Linked DNA regions of Homo sapiens: regions 1 and 3 are each linked to region 2. The links come from fine-mapping of genetic effects on gene expression. A gene starts in region 2. Each other region holds a variant in brackets. All regions are shown on one strand. Distances are between the middles of the regions.

Region 1 (4,164 bases), 27 kb before region 2:
TAGGTGAATTATAATTTTTTTTCGAGACACAGTCTGGCTCTGTCACCCAGGCTGGAGTGTAGTGATGTGATCATGGTTGTGATCACTGCAGCCTCCACCTCCCAGGCTCCAGCGATCCTCCTGCCCCAGCCTCCTGAGTAGCTGGGACTATAGGTGTGCACTACCATGCCTGGCTAATTTTTTTTTTTTTTAAATATATATAAAGATGGGATCTCACTATGTTGCCCAGGCTGACTCCAACTCTTAATTTTTACTTTTTAGATTCCAGGGGGAGAGAGGCAGGAGGCTTAGGCCTTGGCCCTTTCCTTCCCTCTCACCCTCTCCCCTCCCGCTTACTTTGCTGTCATTTCTACCCCTTTAGCGACCGGTCCTGTACCGTCCTCAATGTAGAAGGTGACGCTCTGGGGGCAGGACTCCTCCAAAATTACGTGGACCGTACGGAGTCGAGAAGCACAGAGCCTGAGTTGATACAAGTGAAGAGTGAGCTGCCCCTGGATCCGCTGCCAGTCCCCACTGAGGAAGGAAACCCCCTCCTCAAACACTATCGGGGGCCCGCAGGGGATGCCACGGTCGCCTCTGAGAAGGAATCAGTCATGTAAACCCCGGGAGGGACCTTCCCTGCCCTGCTGGGGGTGCTCTTTGGACACTGGATTATGAGGAATGGATAAATGGATGAGCTAGGGCTCTGGGGGTCTGCCTGCACACTCTGGGGAGCCAGGGGCCCCAGCACCCTCCAGGACAGGAGATCTGGGATGCCTGGCTGCTGGAGTACATGTGTTCACAAGGGTTACTCCTCAAAACCCCCAGTTCTCACTCATGTCCCCAACTCAAGGCTAGAAAACAGCAAGATGGAGAAATAATGTTCTGCTGCGTCCCCACCGTGACCTGCCTGGCCTCCCCTGTCTCAGGGAGCAGGTCACAGGTCACCATGGGGAATTCTAGCCCCCACTGGGGGGATGTTACAACACCATGCTGGTTATTTTGGCGGCTGTAGTTGTGGGGGGATGTGTGTGTGCACGTGTGTGTGTGTGTGTGTGTGTGTGTGTGTGTGTGTGTTCTGTGACCTCCTGTCCCCATGGTACGTCCCACCCTGTCCCCAGATCCCCTATTCCCTCCACAATAACAGAAACACTCCCAGGGACTCTGGGGAGAGGCTGAGGACAAATACCTGCTGTCACTCCAGAGGACATTTTTTTTAGCAATAAAATTGAGTGTCAACTATTTAATCAGGTGTTCTTGAGAATTTGACTTAAAGCACTGGCCACTGCAATGACAGTATCTGCTCATCAAGAAACACCACTGGGCTGGGCATGGGGGCTCACACCTGTAATCCCAGCACTTTGAGATCACTCCAGGCCAGGAGTTCAAGACAAGCCTGGGCAACATAGTGAGACATCGTCTCTACAAAAAAATACAAAAATTAAGGCCGAGCACGGTGGCTCACACCTGTAATCCCAGCACTTTGGGAGGCCGAGGCGGGCGAATCACGAGGTCAGGAGTTCAAGATCAGCCTGGCCAACATGGTGAAACCCTGTCTCTACTAAAAATA[T/C]AAAAATTAGCCAGACATGGTGGTGGGCGCCTGTAGTCCCAGCTACTCAGGAGGCTGAGGTAGGAGAATTGCTTGAACCCGGGAGGCAGAGGTTGCAGTGAGCCGAGATCGCACCACTGCACTCTAGCCCGGGTGAAAGAGCAAAACTCTGTCTCAAAAACAACACAAAAAATTAGGCAGGTGCAGTGGTGCACACCTGCAGTCCCAGCTACTCAGAAGTCTGCGGTGGGGAGGATTCCTTGAGCCCAGGAGTTTAAGGATGCAGTGACCCATGATCATGCCACTGCACTCCAGCCTGGGCAACAGAGTGAGACCCTGTCGCTTTTTTTTTTTTTTTTTTTTGAAACGGAGTCTGGCTCTGTTGTCTGGGCTGGAGTGCAGTGCAGTGGCACGATCTTGGCTCACTGCAACCTCCGCCTCCCAGGTTCAAGCGATTCTCCTGCCTCAGCCTCCGAAGTAGCTGGGACTACAGGTATCTGCCACCATGCCCAGCTAATTTTTGTATTTTTAGTAGAGACCGGTGCCTCAAGTGATCCACCCACCTTGGCCTCCCAAAGTGCTGGTATTACAGGCGTGAGCCACCACGCCCAGCCAGACCCTGTCTCTTAAACACCACGGGAAACCACAATGAGACACCACTATACACAGTAGAATGGCTGAATACAAGACCAAGGGAGGATGGGATACAACAGGACTCCTCATCTCTTGGTTGGTGCTCCCTTAGTAGATGGCTGAGTTGTTTTGGAAAATAACTGGGCAGTTTCTTAATAAAGTTAAAAAATACAGGCTGGGTGCAGTGGCTCACGCCTGTAATCCCAACACTTTGGGAGGCCGAGGTGGATGGATCACCTGAGGTCAGGAGTTCGAGACCAGCCTGGCCAACATGGTGAAACCCCGTCTCCACTAAAAATACAAAAATTAGCCGGGCGTGGTGGCACATGCCTGTAGTCCCAGCTACTTGGGAGGCTGAGGCAGGAGAATCGCTTGAACCCAGGAGGCAGAATGTTGCAGTGAGCCAAGATCTCACCATTGCACTCCAGTCTGGGTGACAAAAGCAAAACTCTGTCTCAAAAAAAAAAAAAAATATATATATATATAATATATATTTATTTACTATGCAGCTTAGGAGTTGCACTCCTGGGTATTTACCCAAGAGAAGTGAAAACTTTTGCTTTTACAAAAATGTGTCCACAAACGTTTAGCTGCTGTACTCATCATTGCCAAAATTTGGGAACAAATCAATTGGATACACTGGTACATTCATACAATGGAAGATTACTCAGCAATAAATAAGAGCGATATCGACCTACACTGCAACAGAAATGCATTTCAGATAATTTGTTGAGATAAAGAAGCCAGAGACGGTAAATACTGTATAGTTCCATTTAGAGGAGGGCTAGAACATGCTCAACTGGCCTATGGTGGGAAATCAGAACAGTGGTGACCTTTGAGAATGAATATGGGGCCAGGCACGGTGGCTTCATGCCTGTAATCCTAGCACTTTGGGAGGCCGAGGTGGGCGGATCATGAGGTCAGGAGATCGAGACCATCCTGGCTAATATGGTGAAACCCCATCTCTACTAAAAATACAAAAAATTAGCAGGGCATGGTGGCGGGCGCCTGTAATCCTAGCTACTCTGGAGGCTGAGGCAGGAGAATGTGGTGAACCCAGGGGGCGGAGCTTGCAGTGAGCCGAGATTGTGCCACTGCACTCCAGCCTGGGTGACAGAGCAAGACTCCATCTCAAAAGAAAAAAAAAATAGCATATTGATCAGAAGGGAGCACAAAAGAACCTTCTATGATAAAGCAAATATCTTACCTTGATTTGGGTGATGATTCCACAGATGGATGCATTTGGGAAAGTTAACGAACCTGTACACAAATCACATGCATTTTGCCCTGTGTGCCTTCCAGTTAAATTTTTTCTACAATCTGGGTGTGGTGGTTGGTACGTATCTGGAGTTTCCACTACTCAAGAGGCTGAGGCGGCGAGAGAATCACTTGAGCTCAAGGGTTCAAGGCTGCAGTGAGCTATGATTATGTGACTGCACTCCAGCCTGAGCAACAGATTGAGACCCTATCTCTTAAAAAAATCTGCACAAGGAGAATCGCTTGAACCCAAGAAGTGGAGGTTGCAGTGAGCCAAGATTGCGCCACTGCACTCGAACCTGGGCAACAGAGCAAGACTCTCTCAAGAGCAACAACAACAAAAATCTGCACAACGCATGGTAACAATTTATTTTCCTTTGTGACCACCTACTTAGGAATGCAGCATCCCTTCATATCCCAACTCTCACTATCCAAATTGTCCCAAGAATTATTTTATTTCCTTGAAACCCCAAAATAGCTATTTGGATAAAAACCCACTCTGCAACTGTTTTACATCCTGTGTAAGTTCAGAATATGGACTATGCTGGCCGGGCGCGGTGGCTCACACCTATAATCCGAGCACTTTGGGAGACTGAGGCGGGTAGGTCACCTGAGGTCAGGGGTTCGAGACCAGCCTGACCCATATGGGGAAACCTCATCTCTACTAAAAATACAAAAATTAGCTGGGTGTGGTGGTGGGCACCTGTAATCCTAGCTACTTGGGAGGCTGAGGCAGGAGAATCGCT
Region 2 (4,165 bases):
CACTTGAACTCAGGAGGCGGAGGTTGCAGTGAGCCGAGATTGCTCCACTTCACTCTAGCCTGGGTGAGACCCTGTCTCAAAACAAACAAACAAACAAAAAAAAGACGGACAAAAGCCATGCAACTTACAGACAGGGCAGGAAACCAGCAGGGGGCGCAAGAGTAGAAACAGGGGGCTTGCCTTAGAAATGGTAGTCAGAGGGGACAGTTACTCTGAGAGTTTACTTGTCTCTCCAGTCCCCACAAAACAAGGTAAATGAATCCAAATTCTCTTCAGGCCTTGGGTTCACTGGGTCTGAGTTGCGATTTGGCCTGAGCCTCAGTCCCTGCACCTGTGGAATGGGAATGTGACGGTTAGAAAAAAATGAGAGGGCTGGGCGCGGTGGCTCACGCCTGTAATTCTAGCATTCTGGGAGGCCGAGGCGGGCGGATCACGAGGTCAGAAGTTCGAGACCAGCCTGCCAACAAGGTGAAACCCCATCTCTATTAAAAATACAAAAAATTAGCCGGGCGTGGTGGCAGGTGCCTGTAATCCCAGCTACTCGGGAGGCTGAGGCAGGAGAATCGCTTGAACCAGGGAGGTGGAGGTTGCAGTGAGCCATGACCGCGCCACTGCATTTCAGCCCGGGCAACAGAGCGACACTCCGTCTCAAAAAAGAAAGAAAGAAAAAGAAAAAAATGAGAGACATGGGAAAGCCTTAAGGAATGAGGAAGGGCAGTTTCCATGAGAGTGTAGGTGACACTGAGGGACTTCTTACCTCCTAGGTTGTAGGCTGGGGGAGTTCCAGGAGGGCAGTTCCAGCCCAGCTGAGCTGCGCTCCTGAGAGGAGGAGAACCAGAAAATCCCAAATCAGCCATTTCCGTACAATAGAGCACAATTTCATCTTATCCACAAAAGTGGCAAGAGAAAGGTCAGGGAATCCTTTCTCTTGAAGTCCTATAATCTCGGGCACCACCTGGGGTGTCTCAGGAGTGGGGTGGGGTGAATGGGAGGGATGTCAGTTATTATAGCAACCTATAACCATCCCTCTAGCATGAATGTGTCCAGAAAAGGTAGGGCTAGAAGCCAACAGAAGCTGTTACCATGACAACCCCTTCCATAGACACACTCTACCTCTGAGAGACATTCTTAAAACATCCCCTGGCCGGGCGTGATGGCTCACACCTGTAATCCCAGCACTTTGGGAGGCCGAGGCGGGCCTGAGGCAGATCACCTGAGGTCGGGAGTTCAAGACCAGCGTGACCAACATGGAGAAACCCCGTCTTTACTAAAAATAAAAAAAAAATTAGCCGGGCGTGGTGGCGCATGCCTGTAATCCCAGCTACTTGGGAGGGTGAGGCAGGAGAACGGCTTGAACCGGGGAGGCGGAGGTTGTGGTGAGCCGAGATTGGGCCATTGCATCCCAGCCTGGGCAACAAGAGTTACACTCTGTCTCAAAAAAAAAAAAAAAAAAAAAAATCCCCTCCTTTGTTGGGCTTGGTTCCTAGGGTCACTCGAAGGGGGCTGCTCTATTATCATAGTAACCAGGCCTTGAACTTGCCTGTTTCTCACCTTCCGGAGGAAGGTCCAGGCCCTGTAACCATAGCAACTGCCCCTCAGCAGAGCATCTCCTCTAAATAAAAACACCTGGTTAGTTTGGTGCATGGGCCTCCCACGATGGGAAGGGGAAGACGGTTACCATGGTAATGCCAACTAGGTGGCTATGGGGGAGGGGCTGGGGAAGAGGTGCTTCTCTTAGAGATCAGTGTCCTTGGGGCTGGGGTCCTTTCTACCTGAATGCTAGGTGGGGGGGAGGTTGCCATAGTAATCAATGAGGATAGGAGCAGAAGGACCACCACGGACACTTAGGTTACCTTAGCAACCTTCTCCTGGTGCAGAGTCCTAAGAGGTTTGGGGCTCCATAACCACAAAGGTGGAAGCGAGGGGAAGGCTGCTCCCCACCACCTCGCCCCCACCGCTGGGGAAGGGTTACCATGACAACCAACCTGGCCGGCAATCAGAGAGGATGGGGCCACTGCTGGTCGCCCTTTCTCTCAGAGTAAAAGTAATTGTCCAGGAGAGTGGTGTTTGGGTGTGGAAGGGGTAAGGCTCTTTCTCTGGGGCGAAGTGGGAGGAGGGGGGCAGAAAGCGGCCCCTTCCTCAGTCTCACTCCAGCGAGGGGGACCGTCGCGCGGGGCCTGGGTCTCCCTCGCCCTCCTCGGGGCGCGATCTCCCACCCGCCGGCCCCCGCGCGGGCACGCTACCCTTCGGTGTAGACCCGGGTGGGCGAGGCTCGCGCTCGCCGCCGGCCCCCCTTCCTACTGTCCCCCGCCGGGCGCGCGCGCGGTGGTTGCGGCGGGGGAGGGGGGGGGGTGTTGGCGCGGCCGCGCAGGCGCGCGAGGCACAGCGGGCGCGCAGGCCGGCCCCGGGGCCTCCATGATGGAGGAGCGAGCGGCCGCCGCGGTCGCCGCCGCCGCCTCCTCCTGCCGTCCGCTCGGCTCAGGCGCGGGCCCTGGCCCCACTGGGGCGGCCCCGGTCTCCGCCCCTGCCCCCGGGCCGGGCCCGGCAGGTAAGGGAGGCGGCGGCGGAGGCAGCCCCGGGCCCACGGCGGGCCCGGAGCCCCTGAGCCTGCCGGGGATCCTGCACTTTATCCAGCACGAGTGGGCGCGCTTCGAAGCCGAGAAAGCCCGCTGGGAGGCCGAGCGCGCCGAGTTACAGGTGAGCGCTGTCCCGGGACCCCCGACCCCCAACCCGGCCCGGCCCGGCCCGGCCTCACCCGCTGCCGCCGCCGCCGCCATCTTGGAGCAATGGCCGCCGGGACGGCCGGCGGGGGGGCGGGAGGGGACCGCGACGGTCCCGGAGGGCGAGTGAGGGGCCGTCCGAGGGGTGTCCTGAGGGCACTCCGGGGTGGGACGGGACCGGGACGGCCCGAGGTGGGAGTGGAGGGACCGGGGGTGGGAGGGATCACCGGGACCGGCCGAGAGAAAGGGGCGGAGGGACCACAACCAGCTGGGAGTGGGACTGGGACTGGGACTGAGCACGCTGGCCGCGGGGCTCCTGAGAGAGGCGACTCGAGCCCTGGAGGGGAGGCTAAGAGAACTCGGGAAAGGGTGTGGAGAGGAGCTGGAGGGGTCTGGGAGACCTGAGTGGTCTCCTGTGGGAGTAAGCAGAAGCTTGCCGGGCGCCGAGGGACTCCCGACCCCGACCCCGACCATGGCCCTAGCCAGGTGCAGGTTGGAGGTGGGAGCGTCCAAGGGGGGAACTTGGGACCCGCTGGGAAAGAGCGGGTCCAGATGGGGAACCGGGAGGATTTAGGGAGAGGAAGTCGGGAACCTGGGATCGGTGTGTTTCGGGGCGACTGGACGGTGGGCACGGAAGGAGGGCTGTGTAAGGACCCGAGGGGTGGGAGGAGGGTTTCAAGGGGTCCAGGATGAAGGTGTGTGCCTTCCCCTCTGAGGAGAAACTTTGGGGATCCCGGGCATGTGTGGCTGCACAGTGCAGGGAAGGGTTCTTTGGAGTGGAAGTGTGGACAGAGCAGGGAATGTACCCTAGGAGCCTGGATGGGAGAGCTTAAGAGTGGAAGTTCCACTTTGGGGGTGTGCAGGAGTGGGCGCGATGGCACTGAGATGGCACGTGTGTTGTAGGATGTAGGTAGAGAGCCCTGAACTGGAGTGTGGGGTGTTGGGCATGTCCAGTATGGAGGTGAGGGTCCTGGGATGGTGCCAATGAGGACGAGTTAGGGGTTACCCTGGGGTGATGCTTTAGGGGGGAGAATTTTGTAGAGCCCGAAGGCAACATGAGGAGGCATCTCGGAACGGGGGTAGACTGGGGTTGGGGGGAAGGGGATATGTTTGTGGAAGTCTTGGGAAAAGACCCCGTGGTTTTTGGGGTAGCTTGGGACAGGGATGTTGAATGGAAGAGTCTGAGGAGTTGGGCTAGGGTTTGTGACCTCGTGGAGCGTCAGGTCCATTGGCAGTGACTGGAGGACCATGGAGATGTCCGGATTTGAAGGGATCAGGAATGGCCCGCTGGAAGTCTGAAGATTCTTGGACTGGGTTATTATTAGCAGAAATTGTCATTACCTGCTTGTAGCAGCCCACCTTTCCCCTTCCGATTTGCCGTTTGCTATCTAGTAGGAAGCTGGTACCCAAATAAATAGCTGATGAGAATTGTGTCGGTAGGGATG
Region 3 (4,194 bases), 200 kb after region 2:
TCAGCTCTCATGTCTCCTGCACAAACTCTCCCAGGCGTGAGAAGAGACTCCACTCTGCAGAAACTCTGTCTCTAAGGGGGAAGTGACAGTCAGAGAAGGGAACAGGGATATTACTGAGGCCAGAAGGCCCCTCTCCCCTCAGTGAGGCCCACGCTCGTGCCCAAAGCCTGTCTGTCTTCCTAAATAATGCAGTGTGGAAGAGTAGAGGCTTTGCAGCCAAGCAGACAGGATTTCATAACCCTGGTTCCAGTACTTCCCAGTGTGTGATCTTGGACCATCAACTGGGCCTCTGAACCTCAATCTCCTCCTCTATAAAAGTGGCACAATGGCCGCAGGCGGTGGCTCACGCCTGTAATCCCAGCATTTTGGGAGGCCGAGGTGGGCGGATCACTTGAGGTCAGGAGTTTGAGACCAGCCTGGCCAACGTGGCGAAACACTGTCTCTACTAAAAATACAAAAATTAGCCGGGCGTGGTGGTGGGCACCTGTAATCTCAGCTATTCAGGAGGCTGAGGCAGGAGAATCACTTGAACCCAGGAGGCGGAGGTTGCAGTGAGCCGAGATAGTGCCATTGCACTCCAGCCTGGGCAACAAGAGCAGAACTCTATCTCAAATAAAACCCAGAAAACCAAAAAAAAAAAAAAAAAAAAAAACCCAAAACAAAACAAAAAGAAAAAACAAAAACAACAACAACAAAAAATGGCACAGTAATAGCTTAATTCCCAAGCTTGTTCAGGATTTTGTGGGTCAGGAATGTGAAAAGGGTTTGACTGGATGTTCATTTCTGTTCCACGTGGCATCATGTGATGAGGGCTGGAGGACCCACCTCCAAGATGGCTTCTTCACTCCCATGTCTGGAAGCTTCAATTCTCCTGGGCCTTCTCACAGCTCCATGCTCTTAGGGGAGCTGCAATTCTTTTTTTATTATTTATTTATTTATTTATTTGAGACGGAGTTTCGCTCTGTCGCCTAGGCTGGAGTGCAGTGGCCGCGATCTGGGCTCACTGAAAGCTCCACCTCCTGGGTTCACACCATTCTCTTGCCTCAGTCTCCCGAGTAGCTGGGACTGCAGGCGCCTGCCACCACGCCCGGCTAATTTTTGTATTTTTAGTAGAGACGGGGTTTCACCGTGTTAGCCAGGATGGTCACGATCTCCTGACCTCGTGATCCGCCGCCTTGGCCTCCCAAAGTGCTGGGATTACAGGCGTGAGCCACCGCGCCCGGCTGGGGAGTTGCAATTCTTACACAGTAGCCTGGGAGCCAAAGAGATCACGACGGAATCTGCTGGTTCCCTTAAAATGTAGATCCAGGCCTGGCGGTGTCACTTGTTTGTTTGTTTGTTTGTTTGTTTAGACAGGGTCTCGTTCTGTCACCCAGGCTGGAGTGCAGCGGCGCCATCATAGCTCACCGCAGCCTCTACCTCCTAGGCTCAAGGGATCCTCTTGCCTCAGCCTCCCGAGTAGCTGGGACTACAGGTGCGGGCCACCACGCCAGCCTATTTTTAAAAGTTATATTTTTGGCCGGGAGTGGTGGCTCACGCCTGTAATCCCAACAGTTTGGGAGGCGGAGGTGGGTGGAAGTCGGGAGTTCAAGACCAGCCTGACCAACATGGATATACCCTGTCTCTACTAAAAATACAAAATTAGCCACGTGCGGTGGCGGACCCCTGTCATTCCAGCTACTCGGGAGGCTGAGGCAGGAGAATCGCTTGAACCCAGGAGGCGGAGTCTGTGGTGAGCCGAGATCACGCCATTGCACTCCAGCCTGGGCGACAAGAGCGAAACTCCGTCTCACAACAAAACAAAAAAGTTATTTTTAGTAGAGTTGGGGTCTTTCTGTGTTGCCCAGGTTGGTCTTGCAGTCTTGGGATCAAGCGATCCGCCCACCTCTGCTTCTCGGTGTTGGAATTACAGGCGTGAGCCGCCATGCCCAGCACAGTGTCACATCTGTCATATTCTATGGGTCAAAGCAGTCAAGGGTTCTTTCTCAATCAGACTAAGACCAACAGGAACAAGCTTATTGTATTAATTTGCTAGGGCAGCCTTAACAGACAAGAAGGGAGGTGAGTCGCCTTTTAGTTTAAGTAGATACGGTCATGCTATTCTCTAATTGGCCACCAGATGGCGCGCTGGACTTACTATTAGTACAGTTTGTAATTGCCCTTCCGAGAGTGGCCACCGCCACTCAAGCGACTGGACACTGGACTAAGTGCTTCTGTTAATTTGGATAAGACAAGACTCTCACTTTCTTTGATAAAATATAAATCTAGAAGAGCCCT[A/T]GGCTTTTATTGCATCATGATCATGGAAGGAGAGAAATGATCCTTTTCTGATTTGCCAGAGAAAACCAACCAGTATTTATTCTTTAGGAAATACAGAGATGCTATTTAACCTCCTGGTCACCATAGCAACAAATAATCAAGGAAGACAACCAATCAGAATGCAGGTTTCTTTGGGAGGTTCTTTTTTTTTTTTTTCAGATATTGCAACAATTTCTAAAAAAATCTTAGACTCTTTTGTTCAAATTATCCTTTCAAGGAAAGACACAAATGAACAGAGTTAACAAATGAGGCTGGTAACAGGAAAATTAACTGGAGCTCCTGGCTGCACGGGAGAACAGAATGAATGTTTAGGGTATGTTCTCAATGTGCCACTCTATTAAAATTGATTTTTTTTTTTTTTTTTTTTTTTTTTGTAGACAGAGTCTTGCTCTGTCACCCAGGCTGGAGTGCAGTGGCGTGATCTCGGTTCAATGCAAACTTCGCCTCCCAGGTTCAAGCGATTTTCCTGCCTCAGCCTCCCGAGTAGCAGGGATGATAGGTGCCTGCCACCACGCCCGGCTAATTTTTTTGTATTTTTAGTAGGGATGGAGTTTCACCATGTTGGCCAGGCTGGTCTCAAACTCCTGACTTCAAGTGATCCGCCCTCCTCGGCCTCCTAAAGTGAAAAAACTAATTATTTAGAGCAATTTCATGATGCAGAATAGAACCCCTTCCTATACAGCTGCAAGAGAGAACGGGCTTTTTTTTTTTTATGTTTGAAAGCACTGACTTTGCTAAGCGTGGTGGCTCATGCCTGTAATCCCAACACTGGGAATCTGAGATGGGAGGACCACTTAAGCCCAGGAGGCCAAGGCTGCAGTGAGCTATGTTTGCACCACTGCACTCCAGCCTGGGCAATGGAGTGAGACCCTGTCTCAAAAAAATGCAATAATTAAATATAATAAACACTTGAAACAAACTTTATAGGAACCACAGTCTCAAGATGAAGAGTTACATTCCAGAAAGAATCCACACAAGACCACTGGGCTTAACATTCTGTCTTATAGGCAAGCTTTTTGCTTACAATTCACCCAGGAAATAAACATGATATATATAGATCCAATGTCCATTCTTTGTTTTTATTTGTTTTTTTTTGTTTGTTTGTTTTTTGGAGACTGAGTCTCACTCTTGTCACCCAGGCTGGAGTGCAATGGTGAGATCTCAGCTCCCTGCAACCTCTGCCTCCCGGAGTCAAGCGATTCTCCTGCCTCAGCCTCCCGAGTAGCTGGGATTACAGGCTCCTGCCACCACGTCCGGCTAAATTTCATATTTTTAGTGGAGACGGGGTTTCACCATGTTGGCCAGGCTGGTCTCAAACTCCTGACCTCAGATGATCCGCCCGCCTCAGCCTCCCAAAGTGCTGGGATTACAGGCGTGAGCCACCGCGCCCGGCCTCATTTTTTCATTCATTCAGTTTACATTTACTGAGCATCTCCTCAGTGCCAGTATAATTCAGGAACATAGAAGTGAACAATTCGAACATAGGTTTCTGCTCATATGGACCTTACCATCTTGTAACCTAATTAGAACCTTCCCTTGCCTGCCTGGGAAACACCTGTGCCCACAGTCCCTCCAGTCCCGAGTTTCCCATTGTGACAAATTTAATTGTGTTCCCTCCAAATTCCTGTGTTGAAGTCCTAACCTCCAGTACTTCAGAATATAACTATACTTGGAGAAAGGGCGTTTAGAGAGGCAATTAAGTTAAAATGAGGTCTTTAGAGTGGGCACCAACCCAACATGGCAGATGTCCTCATAAGAAGAGGAAATTTAGGCCGGGCGCAGTGGCTCACGCCTGTAATCCCAGCACTTTGGGAGGCTGAGGCAGGTGGATCACCTGAGCCCAGGAGTTCGAGACCAGGCTGGCCACCATGGCAAAAC

Alleles and levels. Positions count from the first base shown, and alleles are read on the strand shown. Sizes are in standard deviations (SD) of each study's normalised expression. Not every link is listed here.
In carriers of allele A in region 3, the expression in whole blood of the gene that starts at base 2,396 in region 2 tends to be higher than with T alone (large effect, 1.1 SD a copy in Lepik 2017).

Evidence for each region. PIP is the estimated chance that this variant, and not a neighbour inherited with it, causes the effect. A credible set is the group of variants that fine-mapping cannot tell apart.
Region 1: its variant is the best candidate, but not a certain one, in a credible set for the expression of STRN4 in caudate (GTEx, PIP 0.72).
Region 3: its variant is the best candidate, but not a certain one, in a credible set for the expression of STRN4 in whole blood (Lepik 2017, PIP 0.70).

What each region holds. Positions count from the first base shown.
Region 1 is chr19:46,771,945-46,776,108 of GRCh38, reverse strand. SLC1A5 (solute carrier family 1 member 5) reads left to right here. Exons shown (of 8, transcript NM_005628.3): 8 at 362-1,226. The coding sequence ends at 599. Among named protein-coding and RNA genes, the nearest start is that of SLC1A5, 15 kb to the left of the region's middle. The variant T/C (reference allele first, on the strand shown) is at 1,550.
Region 2 is chr19:46,744,681-46,748,845 of GRCh38, reverse strand. STRN4 (striatin 4) reads left to right here and starts at 2,396. Exons shown (of 18, transcript NM_013403.3): 1 at 2,396-2,697. The coding sequence starts at 2,416. FKRP (fukutin related protein) reads right to left here and starts at 2,789. Exons shown (of 4, transcript NM_024301.5): 1 at 2,756-2,789; 2 at 758-819; 3 at 181-331. RefSeq lists silencers at 1,971-2,020, 2,061-2,160, 2,201-2,350, 2,361-2,410, 2,621-2,850.
Region 3 is chr19:46,540,791-46,544,984 of GRCh38, reverse strand. It overlaps the pseudogene PPP5D1P. Among named protein-coding and RNA genes, the nearest start is that of PNMA8B, 47 kb to the right of the region's middle. The variant A/T (reference allele first, on the strand shown) is at 2,278.